Regions from separate parts of the Homo sapiens genome. Here region 2 is linked to region 1. Evidence: fine-mapped expression QTL. A gene starts in region 1. The other region holds a variant in brackets. All regions are shown on one strand. Distances are between the middles of the regions. Region 1 holds the start of PCSK9 (proprotein convertase subtilisin/kexin type 9). Region 2 overlaps USP24 (ubiquitin specific peptidase 24).

What was found. PIP is the estimated chance that this variant, and not a neighbour inherited with it, causes the effect.
Region 2: its variant is the best candidate, but not a certain one, in a credible set for the expression of PCSK9 in whole blood (GTEx, PIP 0.83).

What each region holds. Positions count from the first base shown.
Region 1 is chr1:55,038,501-55,041,000 of GRCh38, forward strand. It overlaps PCSK9 (proprotein convertase subtilisin/kexin type 9), which reads left to right and starts at 1,048. Exons shown (of 12, transcript NM_174936.4): 1 at 1,048-1,544. The coding sequence starts at 1,338.
Region 2 is chr1:55,080,532-55,083,553 of GRCh38, forward strand. USP24 (ubiquitin specific peptidase 24) reads right to left here. Exons shown (of 68, transcript NM_015306.3): 58 at 2,741-2,833; 59 at 791-893. Among named protein-coding and RNA genes, the nearest start is that of PCSK9, 42 kb to the left of the region's middle. The variant C/T (reference allele first, on the strand shown) is at 1,736.

The DNA.
Region 1 (2,500 bases):
CCTACTCTGTGCTGCGATGGCGGGCTCGATGGGGATAACTCTGACCTTACCTCATGGAGTCACTGTCAACCCACTGGTTGCACTGTCTTTGTGCACTGGCTCTCTGGAGTGAGGTCTTTGCAAACAAAGTGGAAAGAGCATCAACTTTGGACTCCAGCACCTAGATTCAGAGCAGGCCATTTCACTCGGAATCTGCTGTGCATCTGCAAGGGAGGATCATAAATTCGCCTTTGTTTCTTCCCAGTATCGACAGCCCTTCCAGAAAGAGCAAGCCTCATGTCATGCCACATGTACAATCTGAGGCCAGGAGCTCTCTTTCCCCTTTTCATCCTCCTGCCTGGTACACAATAGGTGTTTACTGGATGCTTGTCCAGTTGATTTCTTGAACATGGTGTGTAAAAGGAATCTTTGCAAATTGAATCTTCTGGAAAGCTGAGCTTGTGCCTACCATAGAATTCTGAATGTACCTATATGACGTCTTTGCAAACTTAAAACCTGAATCTTTGTAGTATAAATCCCTTGAAATGCATGTAGGCTGGACATCAAAAGCAAGCAATCTCTTCAAGGAGCAGCTAGTTGGTAAGGTCAGTGTGCAGGGTGCATAAAGGGCAGAGGCCGGAGGGGGTCCAGGCTAAGTTTAGAAGGCTGCCAGGTTAAGGCCAGTGGAAAGAATTCGGTGGGCAGCGAGGAGTCCACAGTAGGATTGATTCAGAAGTCTCACTGGTCAGCAGGAGACAAGGTGGACCCAGGAAACACTGAAAAGGTGGGCCCGGCAGAACTTGGAGTCTGGCATCCCACGCAGGGTGAGAGGCGGGAGAGGAGGAGCCCCTAGGGCGCCGGCCTGCCTTCCAGCCCAGTTAGGATTTGGGAGTTTTTTCTTCCCTCTGCGCGTAATCTGACGCTGTTTGGGGAGGGCGAGGCCGAAACCTGATCCTCCAGTCCGGGGGTTCCGTTAATGTTTAATCAGATAGGATCGTCCGATGGGGCTCTGGTGGCGTGATCTGCGCGCCCCAGGCGTCAAGCACCCACACCCTAGAAGGTTTCCGCAGCGACGTCGAGGCGCTCATGGTTGCAGGCGGGCGCCGCCGTTCAGTTCAGGGTCTGAGCCTGGAGGAGTGAGCCAGGCAGTGAGACTGGCTCGGGCGGGCCGGGACGCGTCGTTGCAGCAGCGGCTCCCAGCTCCCAGCCAGGATTCCGCGCGCCCCTTCACGCGCCCTGCTCCTGAACTTCAGCTCCTGCACAGTCCTCCCCACCGCAAGGCTCAAGGCGCCGCCGGCGTGGACCGCGCACGGCCTCTAGGTCTCCTCGCCAGGACAGCAACCTCTCCCCTGGCCCTCATGGGCACCGTCAGCTCCAGGCGGTCCTGGTGGCCGCTGCCACTGCTGCTGCTGCTGCTGCTGCTCCTGGGTCCCGCGGGCGCCCGTGCGCAGGAGGACGAGGACGGCGACTACGAGGAGCTGGTGCTAGCCTTGCGTTCCGAGGAGGACGGCCTGGCCGAAGCACCCGAGCACGGAACCACAGCCACCTTCCACCGCTGCGCCAAGGTGCGGGTGTAGGGATGGGAGGCCGGGGCGAACCCGCAGCCGGGACGGTGCGGTGCTGTTTCCTCTCGGGCCTCAGTTTCCCCCCATGTAAGAGAGGAAGTGGAGTGCAGGTCGCCGAGGGCTCTTCGCTTGGCACGATCTTGGGGACTGCAGGCAAGGCGGCGGGGGAGGACGGGTAGTGGGGAGCACGGTGGAGAGCGGGGACGGCCGGCTCTTTGGGGACTTGCTGGGGCGTGCGGCTGCGCTATTCAGTGGGAAGGTTCGCGGGGTTGGGAGACCCGGAGGCCGAGGAAGGGCGAGCAGAGCACTGCCAGGATATCCTGCCCAGATTTCCCAGTTTCTGCCTCGCCGCGGCACAGGTGGGTGAAGGAGTGAATGCCTGGAACGTACTGGGAACTGCACCAGGCACAGAGAAAGCGGGCTTGCCATTATAGTGGGTTCCGATTTGGTTTGGAAAACATGGGCAGCGGAGGGTGGAGGGCCTGGAGAGAAGGCCCTACCCGAGACAGGGGCGGGGTGGGAAGGACGGCAGATGCTGGGAGCACGAGGCAATTTCTTTATGACACAGAACTCATGCTCTAGTATTCCATCTGTTTCAGCCGAAGAAAAGAACCAGCTGAAGGGGCAGGGGAGAAGGGGCGGAGGTATTCTCGAGGCCCATTGGCGTCCTTTAGGACTCAGGCAGGGAAGGGCCCTTGGTGCTCTGGAGCCGGAGGTGGTGCGCCTGGTACTGGGACCCCGGAGCTGAGCCCGGCGCCTCAGCCCACCTGGCTGTCTGCCGACCGTGTGCGGGGCGAGTTTGCTCAACAACTCTGCCAGCTTCTGGCCCTCAGGCTGTGGGAAGCTTCTTCCCGGGGCGAGACCACTAGCTTTTTCTAAGTATTACCAGCCCAGGACTTGGCTGAGGTTCTGTGTCCCCCAGCTTGGAGTCAGATGTGGGGTTGAATCTTGGCTTC
Region 2 (3,022 bases), 42 kb after region 1:
ATACTCCTCATAGGTTTGTTACGGGGATCAAACACAGTAAGTTTAAAGCACTGTGTGCTTTAAACACAATAAATTTAAAGCACAGCACACAGAAAACACTGAAAAGCTGGTTTGTTGTATTATTACTATGGTTGTTGTCACTATCATGACAAGACCCAGGAAGAGTATAAAAACAGTACACACATAAGTTAGGACACTGGATAATCATATAGGACAATTTGTGGTTTTGCTGTATTGGATGATGACTGTGTTATTAGTTCTGGGAGACAAAATGGAAAATGCTACCAACTGTATCTTACATTCAAATATATTTCAATGATGTAATTTATATCTGCATCCCCTTTGTTTTTACAAAGTACTTTATCTCATTATCTCATTATACCTGGGGAATTATGTTTTGAGTATTTTCATTTTGCACTGAAGATCAGAACGGTCAGGTTCACGAAACTAGGAGACTCCAGCCCACACCATGGCTATTTTCCACACAGTAGTGGTTCAAATTAAGGTGATAAATGAGCTCTGAATTAGCTTTTAATCCTAAAGAGTTGTTTTAAAAAAAATACTTATATACCCTCTCACCTCTCCCAAATGAATGATGACTCACTTTCTCTTATGGCAAACTAGTAAAATATTATAAAGTTTAACATGAATTAAAACAAAAATTTTAAGTGCACCTCAACTAGCAAGTAGTCGAATGAGAAACAAGAGACATTCATTTACTTGCTAATATAATTACTCTCCAAGCTAGACAAATTCAGTATCTCTTCATTCTAAGATATGTTAAGCTTACCAACATTCCTTTGGGATGAGACATCTGAATGCAAAACAAGTAACGCCACTGTATTGTGAAGATTCCCAAATTCTCGTGCTTGTGCTGAACTCCATCGACGTATCTGTCATCAGGGAAGATAAAGTGGCTGTTAGTGTTGTCGTCAGAAATAATATGAAGAGGAAGGGACAGGGTTTGCTGGTTCATAATATTCTGGGCTTTAATTATTTCTCAGTGCTTGACAGAAGAGGTCAAGGTACAAAAAAATCACAGGTTTTAAGCCAGCTCAAAGGGTTATATTAACTCATATTCTAAAACCAGTCCCTTTATGGATTCACTGTAGGTACTGAGTGCTTACAACGTGCCTCAGTATAATGGGAAAAACTCTGAGGCTGGAGATCTGCAGGTCTGGCCCTGCCTCTACCACTCACTGTGCCGCGTAATGTGAGTGAGTTCTTCACCACAACAGTATCTTGAGTTCTTCATGTACTGGCAGAGGTAAGGCTACCTGCCACCTCCCTATTCTGCCTACTTTGTGATTTTGAGGACTAAATGAAATATTAAAAGTGAAAATGTTTTCAAAAGTAGAAATGTGCTCCACAAATGCAAAATAGTATTAATTATACATGCAGCTGAATTATAGTGAATTTAAACTAATTGCTAGTGACAATGGGGCCTTGGATATGGAAGAGTTTGAAGTGGAAAAGGGATATTGTAAATTTCAACATAGTATCCACACACAGAGCACGTGATGCTGTCAGTACTTGTTTTTTTAACACTAAAGAGAAAGCTGAGAGGAAGCCTAAGTCGAAAATCTGTCTCCCTTAGCAGGAAAGGAAAAATGCCTGTGTAATGTGTTTACACACAGGGGAAAAGACTCTGGCTTTGACACCAGCAGAGCTGGGTCTGAATCCCTGCTCCACCAATGCATTAGCTTTGTGACCTTGGACAACTTACTTAACATCT[C/T]TGAGCTTTACTCCTTGCCTGAGAATGGGGATGAAGCTGCTTAATTTTGATGAACTGTGAGTATCAAAAGTATACCACAATAAAGTGACCAGTCGTATCAAGTACATAATAAGTACTCCATAAATAGTACTTATTACCACTGCATGTTAGCATTTCATGTATTTTGAATCTATCAAATAAAAGAAATACGATGGATGGGAGAAACACTGCAATAAAGCAATTTCAAACAGGAGAGTTGGTTTTGGACATATTCAACACTATTCTAACAAAACAACCTCGGTAAGCCGAGGTGGGCAGATCACTTGAGCCCAGGAGTTTGAGACCAGTTTGGGCAACATGGTGAAATCCTGTTTCTATACAAAATACAAAGTTAGCCAGGCACGGTGGCATGTGCCTATAGTCCCAGCTACCAGGGGGCTGAGGAGGGAGGATCACTGAAACCCAGAAGGTCTAGGCTGCAGTGACCCCTGATTACACCACTGTGCTCCAATCTGGGTGACAGCAAACCTGGTGACAGAGTGAGACCTTGTCTCAAACAGACAACAAACAAAAAAACCCAAACAACTTCCTTTTCATTTGAACAAGAGTATTATATCTGCACTATCATTCAGTTTATAACAGCACAACTTTGCATTTGGATTCTGGCTGTGTTTTCAGCATCTGACTTAAAAGAACCACCACCAAGACAGCCTTGTTCACAGCCCCAGAGAGGAAGTAGAAGACCCCAATACCACCTATTCCCTAAAGGTTTTTGAAACCCCCTCCCCAGTCAGAATCCACCTTTCCCTCTTATGACTTTGTCACTAGTTAGTAATTTCCATGGGTTATTAGACTAAATTGTATGAAGAAGTTGTAAAGATAATTTAACTCCAAAGAATTTTCAAGTCTCTATGGTACTACTACTTAGACTTTTATGAAATTAAAAACATTTATCACCTACAAAAAGAAACACAGCGGCTATGAAAACCATAGCTATTCCACTAGGGATATAAAAGTAGTCCTTACCTGATTGTTTTGCCGACTGGCCCCTAGGAGGAAGCTGATCATGTGCCGCAGAGCTGAATGCCTCAGAAGAAGATCTCCAGCCCTAATTCCTTGCTGTCACAAGATATTGAGAATAACAAATTATATTTCTATCCAGACAAAAATTGGTTTTAAAAACACAGCTAAATGGAAAGTTTTAAGGAGTCAATATATTTTTTAAGAATATTATTTCCATATAGAAAGTACTTGTTAAAATCTAATTAAAAAAACTCCTGAGCCTCACATTGCTTCACAATAACTACT